Linked DNA regions of Homo sapiens. The protein of the gene in region 2 interacts with the protein of the main gene of each other region in a biochemical or structural test. Each region holds a gene or a part of one and is shown on either strand. Other genes may lie near its edges.

Evidence for each region.
Region 1: the proteins of FXYD1 (region 2) and SLC8A1 form a complex in vitro, tested with the Homo sapiens proteins (one study listed by BioGRID).

What each region holds. Positions count from the first base shown.
Region 1 is NC_000002.12:40,449,091-40,456,377, reverse strand, and holds the start of SLC8A1 (sodium/calcium exchanger 1 isoform A precursor), read left to right. Parts: upstream 1-4,287; 5' UTR 4,288-4,474; intron 4,475-4,693; exon of another isoform or gene 4,694-4,918; intron 4,919-7,287. UniProt on the Homo sapiens protein: Mediates the exchange of one Ca(2+) ion against three to four Na(+) ions across the cell membrane, and thereby contributes to the regulation of cytoplasmic Ca(2+) levels and Ca(2+)-dependent cellular processes.
Region 2 is NC_000019.10:35,134,745-35,141,834, forward strand, and holds the start of FXYD1 (phospholemman precursor), read left to right. Parts: upstream 1-4,079; 5' UTR 4,080-4,150; intron 4,151-4,390; exon of another isoform or gene 4,391-4,488; intron 4,489-4,677; exon of another isoform or gene 4,678-4,844; intron 4,845-4,889; exon of another isoform or gene 4,890-5,023; intron 5,024-5,174; exon of another isoform or gene 5,175-5,281; coding exon of another isoform or gene 5,282-5,335; coding exon 5,336-5,396; intron 5,397-5,852; coding exon 5,853-5,885; intron 5,886-6,387; coding exon 6,388-6,462; intron 6,463-6,791; coding exon 6,792-6,828; intron 6,829-7,090. UniProt on the Homo sapiens protein: Associates with and regulates the activity of the sodium/potassium-transporting ATPase (NKA) which transports Na(+) out of the cell and K(+) into the cell. Inhibits NKA activity in its unphosphorylated state and stimulates activity when phosphorylated.

The DNA.
Region 1 (7,287 bases), on a different chromosome or scaffold from region 2:
AAAACAGAAGTCTCAGAATTTTGTACAAACCCAATTCTTTTTTTTTTTTTTTTTTTTTTTTGAGACGGAGTCTCGCTCTGTCCACCCAGGCTGGAGTGCAGTGGTGTGATCTCTGCTCACTGCAAGCTCCGCCTCCTGGGTTCACGCCATTCTCCTGCCTCAGCCTCCCAAGTAGCTGGGACTACAGGTGCCCGCCACCACGCCCGGCTAATTTTTTGTATTTTTAGTAGAGACGGGATTTCACCATGTTAGCCAGGATGGTCTCGATCTCCTGACCTCGTGATCCACCCGCCTCAACCTCCCAAAGTGCTGGGATTACAGGCGTGAGCCACCGCGCCCAGCCCAAACCCAATTCTTTAATATCAGTTGCTCAAATGTAGAATTGCAGGTCCCTGATGTCCAAAGACTGTGACAAATTCATTGGCGACTCAGAGGAAGTGGTTGACCCCACGGTAATGCAGAGAGGAGGAGAGTTGTGACTGTGAGTCTGCCAGGAAGGCTGCCCCAGTCTGTGGACTGTTGTGCAGTAGCAGGGTTTACAACTGGGTGAGGTACAAGAGTGGTGTTCAGTTGGTCAAAACAAAACAGAGAAGTAAAAGTTTAACTGCAGGAACAAGTCTCCAGGGAAGAGGAACAACAGCACTTAGAAGTCAACAAAGAATTCTCAAAGTCATCCCCAAAGCAAAGAACCCTGGATCTACTCATCAGCAAAGAAAACCTAAAGAACAAAACTGGGAACCCAATGGTTCACCTGAGATTCTTAGGTATGGAAAAATGGCTAATTCTAAGCTCCACTCACTGGCCAGGCTAGGGGCTATTATGTAATAACATTTTCTTATGTAGAAATCACTATGAAACTGAGCCTGTGACTGAACAGATAGGTGATTAGTGAAGGCTGGCAGAGTAAGAAATGAGGTGAGGGACGACTAAGACTGTATTAACATATTTCAGAAGCCCGAAGCAATGGAAGAGACAATAGAGGTACCTCTGATTTATGTAATTCAAAGTAAAAATGAAAGGAATTTAAACAGAGTATTGTGCTTGTTTTCCCTATGATGAAAACATATTGAGTGCTTTAGTAAAGTATTAAATATTTTTAAAAATCTTGGTAACCTGATCACATGTCTAAATTTTCTATAGACTAGATAAAAAGTAGGGCCTAATTCACAATATTTACACTTGGTCTGAAAATGAGTTTGCTAACAGATCCCCTGAAGGTTTCCTAGGAAATAGTTTGTGAACATCAGAACATCTTTCGAATATATCAAATCTTAGTGATATCCCTGTGGAGTCCCCTGAATGGTTGTGTCGTATTGCTTTGGTTAGATAACAGTGGAGACCCGGTGACTCTTAATTCCAAGTCCAGAGGAAAGAATGGCAATCAATATGGAAGACTGCAATTAAGAAACATTACTGCTATTAGAATGTAAATTACCACCTTCCTCCATTCAACATGTCTTCTTTCCAAAGCCACAGACTGCAGCAGCCTCACTTTTTCCTTTCTTAGAGCCATAGTCTTCCTCAGCCTTGTGCCTGTGATGCAGCCTTTGATAATTCTCGCAATAAAAACTCACTCATGTATGACATTTAGGAGGGAGCAAAAGGTTTGATTTGCCTTGGGGCCCTGGAACCATTATAAAAATGCCTTTAAAGAGAAATGAAAGGCAAAGAAAATTAGGGGCTCAGAAACTGACTGAACCAAAAAGGATGCCAAATCACTAGGCACTAGGCTGCCTCTCCAATAGTTCTAGATAAACAGAAGACCATTTAATATTGTTTTTTTCCCAAGAATCCAAATCAGTCTAAAAGCAGTTTCGATTGGAAAAGAGGAAGAATCAAGTGGCCAAGATGTAGCCTTTCAGTTTCAATGGTCAAAGCAAAAAAAAAAAAAAAAAAAGTCTTAAGACAGACTTTGGGCATCACTGGAGTATAAACATTTAAAGAACAGGGTTCTTGTCACTCCATGTCACAAACATGCCTAAAATTTCAAGAAAATCTCAGCTTTCACTAAGCGGCCCGTCATAGCAATAAGAGGCTACACTCTTTCCACAAAATCTATTCCAGTGAAATATGGCCCACTCACATTTTCATTTAGCTTTCTCTTGGTTCCTTCATTTGGCTGTGTTCTATTTCCTATTGAGTGGAGTCTTTAGTTATAAGCTTTCCTTAGTGTTATTTAGAAGGCAGCCACTTTTCTCTCCAAGCCCCTTTCATTGAGTGTGAGCCAAATATCTGCTACTCACACTGCCTTAAATTCAGGGACTCTAAGTAATTTTTGGTAGAGGACATATTCTAAAAGAGACAGTGACCTTCTGTCTCTCCCCACAGGTCATTCTGTTTATATCCACTAGTAAGTGTAGTCTAACCAAGTTGGTGTGGAAAGTAGCTTCCAAGAAAATTTAACTTATAGCAAGGAAAGAAAAATGTTCTTAGGCAAGAACGATTCCTGCAAATTTTATAAGACGTGAAGCAGCTTAGAGTGTCCTCTACAAAGCCAGTATCCAAGACTGCTGGCAACAGACCCGACTAATTAAAGTGAGGTCCTCATTCAGACGGCCTCAGCATCACTTCAACACTTGCCTACCCCAGGCCTGCTCCAGGTCTATTGAAAAAGAATCTGCAATCCCCATGTGATTCATACTCACATTCATGTTTGAGGAGTATTGGCCTAGAGCAGTGGTTCTCAACCTTCATTGCACATAGGAATCAACCAGGCATCTTAAAAACAAATTAAGGCTGTCTGGGGCCCACCTGCAGAGAGTCAAAGTTAATCAGTTTGGGGGTGTGGCCTAAGCACTGGGATTTTTAAAAACGGCCCAGGAGATTCTGAGGTGCAAGGAGGGTTGAGAGCCACTGGCACAGGGGCAGAAGAGGCTATTTCTTCCATTCCGCCCCCTCTTTGTTGCGGAGGCAAACTGAGGTTCCTGGAGTCAGAATCTATCAGTCGTGGTGACTGCCCTGGTTGCACTGTAAGTATGGGGGGACGTCTCCACGAAAAAAAACTAACTTTCTGCCTTGTGCTCTGCAGGTCCCTCCTTCTCCCACCTTCCCCAAGTAGCTGCTCCTGACCCCCCCACACACCTTGGCAAACGACACCAGTGGCCGATAGCAACTGGTGTTTTAAAAATACTAATTTGGAGCCCCATTTGAGACCTACAACGGGAGAGTCTGCATCAGATTCGGCCTCAGATTCTACAGCATCTGACTACATTCCCAGGTGTGTGTGATGCGCAGCCAGGTTTGGAAGCTAGTGAACTCCACAGTAGGTCTAGCCTTTCACCACGTGAAGTCATTAAGGGTTTGTAAGAATGAATGAGCTGTCAAGAGAGGAAAGGCCTGGTGCAGTGTTCCTTTATTAATTATGAGGAAAGTGATTTATTGGCAATGATAATGCTTCTCTTGGAAAGGGCAAAGAATGGTTCGTCGATTGCTGCATTAGGTTTTTTCCCACTCAACCTTAATGCTCGGCTTTTACTCCTCACTGTAGTTTAAAACCAGCACGCCTTTCACACGAAACAGACTCTGGGTCTTTATTCCCAGGTGAAACGCATCTTTGAGGGAAATACCAACACAGAGACTCTGTCCCAGTTCTTGGCCGGGGGACACCCTCCCCCGAATATCTCTGTTTGCTTGTGTCAGCATCTAGTAGCCAACGTATAGTTGTGCATATCTGATACGTAGAAAAACACAGGGTGAGGATTAAAAAAAAAATCATTGATATATGCCCAGATCCTTTTGCTAAAAGAAAGCTTCCTTTAGCAGAAGGGCAGGAAGTGAGGGAAGAAAGATAGTTGGATTAACAAAGTCAGAGGTGAGAAACGGGTAGGCGAATTGGGGGTCAGGGTTCTGTCTGCGGAAGAGAAGAAGAGGGTTCAAAAGAAAAGTTGCAGCGCCTGTGTGCGCGTGTCATCGATGGGCTGGGTGCGAGAGACAGCGCTAGCGCGCGGCCACAACGCACTGCGGGGCCGAGAGCCGGCAGGAAATCGAAAAAGCTGCTCGCCGGCAGAGGCTGGGAGGCTGGAAGGGCTCCCCACCCGCTCGGTGCTCCAGAAACGCGCCGGCTTTGCCCCGACGCGATCGCCTGGGGAGCCCAAGGGGCGCGCAGGGGGCCCCGGGGCGCCCGGCAGCCGCGGGGCCGAGCGCGCGTGTGAGCGAGTGCGAGGCTGCGGGCGGCGGGCGGGCGAGTGTGCGCGGGAGGGAGGGGGAGCGCGCGCGCGCCCGGGCCCCGGCCCTCCCAGCCTCCCGGCCTCCGCGCCTGCCTCCCGCCCGCGCGCACCGCTGCCCGCTGCCGCGGCTCCCGCTCGCGCCGGCGCTGCACGGTAGTCAGCCCGCCGCCGCCGCCTGCTTTGTGCTTCCCACAGAAGATGGGAGCGACCTCTTCCTGATCGGGAGCTGTTTAAAAGGAGGGAGTGCGCCGTATTTTCTACTAGCGTGGAGGAACGGAGGAAGAATCCATTCACACTCCCCAAACCAGGTAGGATCTTATGATGGACAGGCAGAAGGCATTTAGTCAGAGACCAAGAACTATTTTCCATTTGCTGCTCATAAGGCTACACTTCCCTCTGCTTTGGCAAACGAGCGGCTTCTAAATTTGTGTGTGTGTGTGTGTGTGTGTGTGTGTGTGTGTGTGTGTGTGTGTGATGTGGTGTGTGCGCGCCTGCACATTTTTCTGGGTGTCCGCGCTTCCCAGAGTGAAATTGCTCGGGCTGGTGCGTCTGGGCGTGAGGGTGCCTGCCTGCCTGCCAGTGCAGGCTGCCGGAGGAAGAAAGGGCTGCTAAGGAGAGATGCTGCACCCTGCACCGCGCTGGGCTCTGAGGATTCAGGGCGCGAAGAGCTAAGTCCACCCCGAATGCAGAGCTGCTGGGGATCCAGGCGTCCCCACCCACTGGACTCTTCTCCGCGGACATCCCTCCTTCCGGTAATCCCTGGGGTCTTTCCCCAAGGCCACATTTCCGAGCCCCCTGTTTTCCAGCGGGCGTTGGGTGCTCATTCACCACGGACTGCGGAGAGGAGGGAGGTGTGGCGGGGCAGAGACAGACGAGGAAGAAATGTAGGGGGTAGCAGGGAGTGGGCTGCGGGGTCCACGTCTCTGGGCACTGTGCCGTGGTGTGCTTTGGGGATTCTGCACACACAGGCATCTTTCCCCAAGAGATTGGAAGGGAACTTTGCAGCTGCATTCTCTGCCTCTGGAGCTTTGCTGGCTCTTGGGGGAAATGGTCTGTGTTCTGAGATGTGAAGATATCCTTTTTGGCTCCTCCTTAATGAAGAAGAGGGCGGTCTTATAGCTGGACAGCCGGCCAAAGAAACCAAATCCGCCCAGGCGATGCTCTTGAAAATACAGTACGTGTGCATCCTTGATTCTTTAAATCCACCCCCTGCATCACCCCCGCCTCTTCTCTATCCCCCCCACCACCCCGTGGATTCTGTTGCTGTTTGATGAATGGCTTGGGCTGGCAATTTGTATTTCCCTCTCCAAAGTGGTAGTGGTTGAGTTGAGAACAGGGGTGATGAAATTTAACAAAGCATTTTTAGAAGAGAGCAATGTGCATGTTGTACGCAGTCATTGGAAAGTCATGCTTTGCGCTAGGTATCCTTTTGAAGCCCCCGAACCTGGCTCTCCTGAAGCCGCTCTCTCTCTCTCCTGCTAGTCAGCTACTAGTGGTTGTGAATATAACAATACAAACTTTGTCCTGCTGGAGGTGTAAAGACTAAAAAGAGAAAAAAAGGATATCAGTGGGAGGTGTAGTGGAAGAAGCTTTTTAAAAAATGACAGATGTGGTGAAGACAGTACAAGCGTCCTGATCATGGAGGAGCCTCTAGCTGAGTAGGTGGAGATTTCTGATCAGATCTGGTTAAAGGCATTGCTGGAGTATCTCCAGATATGAGCAGTTGAACATGCACAATCTGAGACTTGTGCGAAGATTTCCCAAGGGAAAGAGGGAGCCACCAGGAGAGAATTCTGAAAGTATACCTCTCTTTCCCATGCCCCCACCAGCGCGCGCGCGTGCACACACACACACACACACTCACATGCTTTCTCTTTCTCTCTCAAAGCTACTCCTGCAGCGAGTCAGAAAAAAAAAGGAAAATGAATCTAGATGTTTCATTCATTTCAAATAAGAAGACAAAGCCGGAAGAGGGATGATTGGTTTTAGGTTCCTCTTTCAAATCCTGTGTTACTTGGATTGAGCTCCCTGGGTTTGCTAAACTTGCTTAATTGGGAGGTTAGGCGGGTGTGAAAGCAGGAGGAAGGAAGGGAAAACTAGCTCCATCTTTGGGGCCTTGTGAGTGAGAAGGTGGGGGAGGACCAACTTATTTCATCAAGAGGCAAGATGTGTGCTCTTAAATGGTTTTCGTTTTACAAATTCTGCCTGCTTGAAGAATTCCATTTGGATCTCACGGCTCTTTAGCTAAGATTTCTCACACCTGCTATAAAAGAAGCCCTGATTTTGTCCCCTTAAAATGGTTGTTGTCTTTTTTTAAAAAAATGATTAATTCCTAGAAAAACAACAGCAACAAAAAGGACTGAACAGAGATAAACCATTATTTATTGTTGAGCTGTATAGGGCTACAAAGGATGTAAGAGTGTCATGATAATCAGACTTTACTGTCTTGAAAGCTTAACAGGGCTGAAGGAGGAGAGTAATGAACTAAAATATGAAGGCTTATTTTCTATGTATCTATCTACCTATGTCTTTACTTTAATATTATTATATAGTGGTTCCTACTGTAACGTTTCAGATTAAGCACATAGCCCTTTTGTTGACCAGGGGAAGAAAAGAGCATGGGAGTAACAGTGCTTTGACTCCCAATAAAATTACAAATGGAAAGTGAGGTATAGTCAGTAACATCTATAGGACTATTTGCAGGAATTATGTTAATTGCTCTGTTAAGCTTTCTGTGTTTTGAAAAAATAAAATATATTCCAAGAGAACTTCAGCATCTGTTAAAAAGCTATGTTTAACATGCTTTTGCCAGGCAAATATAGACTTTTATTTACTTGCAAAATAAACACATGATTCCTCTTAGTATTCAATCTATTTCTTTGACAAAATAAATGATGAGAAAAGCTGTGCAGATCCAAGGAAGTTGCAATTCCCCTTTAAAAAGCCAGCCAAGGCATTCATTTAGCTCATAGATGTGGTTGTCTCAAAGTAAGTGCATTTTGGGACATTAATGTCTGTGTGTTTTTTTTTGTTGTTGTTTTTTGTTTTTTGTTTTTTTTTTTTAATGTTGCAATTCAGTGAGACAAGTTCTTTCTTTGTGATGCCTTTTAGGTACAGGGAG
Region 2 (7,090 bases):
GTCTCCTCCTCCACCAGGCCGCCCTCCATCCGCCTGCTGGCACGCTCGGCCCTGGCTTCTCTCTCCTCTTCTCCGTCTTTCTTTCAGTCGGCCTTCCTCCCTGTTCGTATGTCTTTGGTGTCTAATTTTCTGTTTCTCTTTCTCCCTGTCTTTCTGTCTCTGTATTTTTGACTCTGTGTGTTAGTCTGTTTCTATTTCTGTCTTTGTCTCTCTTTCTGCCTGTTTCTTTTTTTCTGTGTTGCTGTCAGTCTTTCAGGCTTTAGGTAGCTGTCTATCTGTTGGTCTCTATGTGTGTGAGTGTATGTGAGTGTGTGTGTGTCCTGCTGCCTGGTGTCTTGATTTCTTGTCTCCTGCCCCCCCCACCCCCCCTTCCAGCTCCCTGCCTGTAGTTTCTTTGCCTCCTCCCACCTCCCTTCTCCCCGAAGGTTTGGGAAAGGGGTTCGCTGGACACCCGGCACACCCGGCAGAGTAGGATGGGAAGGAGGAGGGGGTCAGAGGCCATGAGAAGGTCGGCCTTGGGGGAAGGGACTGGACAGCCCCACAGGAGGGGGAGGGGCCACCAAGGGCTGGAGCCGCCCCACCACTCCCGCCAGCCCCCTCCCCAGATTCCCCACTCAACCCTATTGGGGGAGCAGGAGGACGATGTCACCAGGGTGGGGACCAGATGGCTCTGCATTCTGGAGCAGGGTGGGAGGAGAGGCCCTGGGGGGGCTGGGGACATCCCGTCCTGGCCACTCTCTGCCAGCCCCCTCCCCTGGCTACAGGAGGGTGTGTTGGGCGCTGTCAGTGGGGCCAGATCACGTCCAGCTGCTCCCTCTGGTGGTCATACTCGGCAGGACCTCTGCCCGGCCCCAAGCCCTTAGCCTCCCTCCCCTACCCTGAAATTAACCCTCTAGTGGCCAACACCCACTGGGGGACAGCACCAACCCGAGGACATGATGATGATGAAGATGATGATGATGGTGAAGATGATGATGATGATGCCACCCCTTCTTCAGCGTCTACTCTGAGCCTGGCCTTGTCCTAAAAGCTCATCTATTAACTCATTCTGATCTTGCCAAAGCCCTCTGAAGTTAGTGCTGTCATCATCACCACTTTACAGCTGGAGGAAGTGGAGACAGAGGTCAGGGAACCTGAACTCTAGGTTACCCAGCTGAGGGCACAGCCGGGATTCAAACCCAGGCATCCGGCTCCAGGTTATTTTGCATTCTTTCTTTGGAGATCAGAGTTCATGGATAGATGGATAATTGGTTGTTTTAATCTGGACTAAATTTTAGTCATTTGGATAGATTCTGTCCACTAAATAAGAAACATAAGTAAATGACACTTGTTAGCTAAGATGAAATAGTAGTAATGTTTATACTCACTCAGCCTTCACAGCCACCCTGTGAGATGGGCAGTACTGCTATCCCTGCTTTACAGATGGGGAAACTGAGGCACAGGGAAGTTATGTGATTAGTTTCCTGGCTCTAGTCAGCTCTAAACCTAACCCCTAGGCTGTACCACCTCATCGCCTGGGGACGAGACTCATCCTGTGATTGAGGAATGCATGCAGCCTCTCTTGACACTGACGCCCACGCCCAGAAGCCTCGTTGGAGGATAAGGGGGCTTAACAGCTTGGAGGTCATGCAGATCTGGGTTCCAGGCCCAGTCCTGTGTGGCCTCAGTTTTCCCATCTGTCAAACGGGGACAATCGTGGCACCCGCTTCCCAGTTGTGGAGAGGACTCAGGTGATGGAGGCAACTCATCCTTTTGGGGTTCAGCACAAGGTGGGCATCCCACAGTGGTCGGCAAGCTTGGGGGTGGGCTCCGGATCCAGCTCCTAGAGGAGCAGACCCCAGCAGCTTGTGGTTTGAGCCATGCCCGTCAGCTCTCAGTTTCCTTCACTGACTATTGGGTATGATAAACAGGGTCCCTGAAAGTGAAGTTGGAGAGCTGAGTGCCAGGGGCACAGAGGGATCTGAACCCACTCTCATAGGGTGCCCAGCCCAGCAGTCCAGTTCACAAGGAGGAGGATGACAAGGACAATAATAATAGGCCAGGCACGGTGGCTCATTTCTGTAATCCCACATTTTGGCAGGCTGAAGTGGGAGGATCGCTTGGGGCCAGGAGTTCAAGACAAGCCTGGGCAACATAGAGAAACCCCGACTGTACAAAAAATTAAAAAATTAGCCAGGCATGGTGTCGCACGCCCATAGTCCCAGCTACTCAGGAAGCTGAGGTGGGAGAATCACTTGAGCCCATGAGGTTGAGGCTACAGTGAGCTATGATTGTGCCATTGCACTTCAGCCTGGGTGACAGAGCAAGACCCGGTCTCAAACAAACAAACAAAAAATGAAGTTAATCATAAGACAATGTCAAGTTCAGAGACCTCTGAGCCCTGTCCAGGATTATACACGTGATCTTAGTGATTTTTCCATTTTGGAGCATGTGAAAATGAGGCACAGAGCTGCTCAAGTTCACACAACCAGGAGTGCAGTGCCTGGGCCATTCCAGGTTTCCCTGTCACCAGGACCTGTAAACCTGGCCTGCCCATGGGGACGCCAGGTGTGTTGTCCCCGACAAGAGCTCAGGGGAAGGAAAGTGTGGGGTTAAATACATATCTGTGGTTTTGGAATGTGTGAACATGCAAGTGTGTCAGCCTGCGCATCTGTCACCGTGGCCAACCATGTGCCTGTTTGCTCAAGCATAGGGTGTGAACCAGTGTGTGTGTTTCTGCTTTTGTGGGTATGTGTGAGAGCGGCGGGTTGTCCTTGATGGTGTTTCTGCTTGTGTATCTGTGCCCATGGAAATCTGTCTGTGTGTACACAAGCTTGTTGGCCTTCCTATCTTTGGGACCATGTAGGAGTGCTGGCTGCATGTCTGTACCTTTGGGGTTTTTTTGTTTTGTTTTTGTTTTTGAGACAGAGTCTCGCTCTGTTGCCCAGGCTAGAGTGCAGTGGCATGATCTCAGCTCACTGCAAGCTCTGCCTCCCGGGCTCAAGTGACTCTCCTGCCTCAGCCTCCGGAGTAGCCGTGATTACAGGCGCACGCCACCACACCCAGCTAATTTTTGTATATTTTTTTAGTAGAGACGAGCTCTCGTCGGGTTGGCCAGGCTGGTGTTGAACTCCTGGCCTCAAGTGATCCTCCCGCCTTGGCCTCCCAAAGTGCTGGGAGTACAGGTGTGAGCCACCGTACCTGGCCATGTTTGGCCATGCATCTTAGAATGCATTTATGTGCGGTGTGCACATACTTGTGTGTTTCTGTATGGCCATTTGTGGGTGGGTCTTCACATAAACATGCATTTTTGTGGCCAGTTTGTGAGTGTAGATGGTGATGTGGCTATGTCTTTGACTGTATCTCTGTGTGGCCATCCATCTACATGAGCGTGCGTGGGTCTGTGTAGACATAAATGTGCTTGTTCTGGTATTTTGTGACTGGCATAAAAGGTGTTGGCTGTGTGTCCGGGTCTTTGGGTTTCTCTATCAGTGTGTCATTCTGTGTGTGTCTGCTTCTATGGATGTACATACATACATGGTTTTGTCTGGTTTTGTACCTGTATATCTGGGTCTTTGGGATTGTGTGTGGGTGTGTGTGTGTGGTGCATTTCTGGGGATCTCACCACAGCAGATAGCGCACATGCGCGCGCACACACACACACACACACACACCTCCCTCCCGTCCTCTAAAACAGCCCTGTTAAGGACCTCACGGAGCACTGGGATCGGGGGTCAGTGGGCTCCTGGGCAGTCAGGCTGGGTGACCTTCGGCCCTGGCTGGACCCAGTTCCCAGGGGGCAGCCGCCTCAGCCCAAAAGCTCTTGGAGGCGTGTGTGTTTGTGTGTGTGTGTGTTCACAACCCTGTCCTCCACAATCCTCCTAGCCTCTCCAGCCTGCCTGCTGGCTGCCTGCTGCTGCTCTCTCTGAACTGAGAGAGTTAACCAAGCGGGCCAGGGCAGTCTGGGCTGGGGGCCGCCCCCTGGCCCCCCTCCAGCCCCAGCTCCAGTTTCAGCTGCTGGTTGGGGAGGGCATGGGTGGGGTGGGGCTGGGAGGGGAGGCTGCTGGGGGCGGCGCGTCCAGCTCTGGGCCAGGGGGTCCAAAGTGCTCAGCCCCCGGGGCACAGCAGGACGTTTGGGGGCCTTCTTTCAGCAGGGGACAGCCCGATTGGGGTGAGCGTCCCCCACTCCTTCCCTCCAGGCCTCACCCCTGGTCTGGCTGGGCCGCCTATTTTGGGAGCAGGAGTGGCCAGCCCGAGGCTTCCCAGGCAGGCCAACCCAAGAGGGAGGGAGTGTGGTTGAGGCAGTGGGTTCTGCAGGGTGGGATGTGGGTGACTCCTCCCTGCCCTGCTGGTGCGTGTGCACCCTGGCAGGGTGTGGAGTTGGGACACACACGTGTGTAGGGCTGGTTGCGTCACTGCGTGGGGGCACCGGAGGCCCAGAGGAGGAGTATTGGATGCCTGACGGTGTTTACACCCCACGTCCTGCTCCAACCAGCAGTTTGGGGAGAGGTTGTTGTTCATGTCCATTCCGGCCCCACTGTGTGTGTGTGTGTGTGTGTGTGTGTGTGTGTGTGTGTGTATCCCTGCCCCAGCATGTGTTTTCTATCTCTAAGGCCCACTGGGCTGGGCCTCATGTCACTTGCCTGACATCCGATTGTGAAAGATGTCACCCAGAGGCGGGCAGAGGGGCTGTCTTTTCCTTTTCTCGTTGCTGCCCAGGGAGGAGACGGGGTGACCTTTCCCACAGGGGCAGCCTGTGGCGATGTGGCAGCTGGGCCTCACCCCGGCAGGGCTGTGCGTGACCCCCTGAGTGGGGGAAGGCAGGCTGTTGCCATGGTGGCCTGAGCGAGCAGAATTCCTCCAGGGTGAAGTGGGAGATATTTATACCCGGGGTCAGGCCGCGAGCGGGCGGGCGGAGAGGGCAGGGAGCTGGGATTTCGCGGGGCACAGTGAGGCCGGGCATGTAGGCAGGTGGGACTTGGGCGTGCCCTGCTGTCTCCTGCTCTGTGTTTGTGTGAGGCAGCGCCTCCTCTGCCCTGCCAGGGTAGGTCTGGGAATCGGGGGCCTGCTGCGGGAGGTGGAGGCCCAAGGGAGGCCCCCCGGGGACTGTGTGTCTCACCCCCGTCCCTGCTACGTTGTGTTGTTGTGTGATCCCATCGTGGAGGTTGTTTTGGTGACACTGTGTCCCCACGAAGCTGGGGATACCCGTTTCTCTAGCTTGGAGCCACCAAGATAGAGGACAAACACTTCTGTGATTCAGTCCCCAGACTGTCTCTGACTTAATCCCTTGGGTTCAAGCCCTATGTGGGAGAGCAAGGGCACACACTGCCTAATCCGTGGTGTCCCCCCCAGGACAATGGCGTCTCTTGGCCACATCTTGGTTTTCTGTGTGGGTCTCCTCACCATGGCCAAGGCAGGTGAGTGCAGGGGAGGCTGCCCGCTACCCACCTCAGCCCCAGGGGTGGCGGTGGGGACCGAAGAACCAAGTTGGAGACCCCAACCTAGACTAAGTCGGCTGGGGTACCAAGAAGTTTGGGGGTCTCCACGTGGGGTCCAGTCACAGGCTGGTATTTGGGGGAGGGGAGAGGAAGCCCCAGATCAGGCAAAGATGGGGTGGGATGGGGCTGAATCCCCGATGGGATAACTGGGTCACAGACAGCCTGCCGTGAGTCAGGGAGCTGGGGCAGTTAGGTGCCACCTGCCCCATCTGGGACAGTGCAGAGGGGGCAGCTGGGACCCAGAGAGTGTGGGCAGCCTGCCCAGACACCCTCAGACTCTAAGCCCAGCAAGGCAGAGCCTCCAGTGGTCTCCTCATGCCCCTCCCTGCCAGGACCCCAGGAAGCATTCAACCCCTGATTTCTCTCTCTTTCCAGAAAGTCCAAAGGAACACGACCCGTTCACTTACGGTGAGCGGGGGGTCTAATTTTGAGTCCTGGGGGAGAGCCTGGCTTTGCTGGTCCTTTGATTCCCCCTCGCCCTCCCCCAGAGTCCCAGTATTGATATCTCTGTCATTCTCCTTCCCTCTATTTTGTCCTTCCTCTCTGATTCCACCTGTCTGCATCTTTTCCTGTCTGTGTCTATCTGTGTCACTGTCTATGTGATACCTCTCTGGTTCTCTTTCTCTTGCCTGCGTCTGTCTCAGCATCTCGTGGCCCATCCTCTGCTTCTTCCCGTCTTCTCTCCCCCCTGTCCTCCTCCTCCCTGTCCCCTCCCTCCCTTTCCTATACACCCCTTTCCTCTCCCTGGTACCCCACTTTCCTCCTCCCATATCTGCTCCCCCTTAATTATCTTACTTCCCCCCTTCTGCCTGCTGGTCCTTTCTCCCTGTTCCCTCCTTCCCAATTTACCCCTCTCCTATTCTCCCTCCTGTCTTCCCTGCCCTCACCTTCCCTGCTCTGCTGCTCACAGACTACCAGTCCCTGCAGATCGGAGGCCTCGTCATCGCCGGGATCCTCTTCATCCTGGGCATCCTCATCGTGCTGAGTGAGTGCCCCTAGCTCCCGCCCTCTACCCCGCCTCTCCCTGGCCCCACCTCTCTCTGGCCCCGCCTCTCCCTGGCCCCGCCTCTCCCTAGCCCCCCTCTCCCTGGCCCCGCTTCTCCCTGGTCCCGCCCCTCCCTGGCCCCGCCCCGCCCCAACCCCTCCCAGGCCTTGCCCCGCCTACCCTGCCTTGGTTCCCCGGCCCCCGGTCTCGCCTCTAGCCCCGCCCCGTCCCCCAAGCCCCGCCCCTCGCGAGGGCGAGCTGGAGCTACAGCGCCGCTTGGCGCCCGCCGGGAGGGAGCCTCAGCTTCTCCTACCTCTCCACGCCCACAGGCAGAAGATGCCGGTGCAAGTTCAACCAGCAGCAGAGGTAAGACGCCCCTCCCCGCCCTCCTTCGCCCGCTCCTGCTCTGGAGGGCGCCGCGGGTGAGGCGGGGAGTACCCCTGACCCGCAGCCCGATCCCCGTCAGCGACTATGTATTAAGCACCTACTATGTGCCATGGCCCAAGCCTGGCCCTGGGACCAAGCGAGGAAAAAACCTCCCGCCCTTCCTGGCCGAGCTCCCAGCCTAGTGGAGGCGGTGGCCGTGGGTTCCAACAGCCCCACAGATAGAAAAATCACAAAGCGTGAT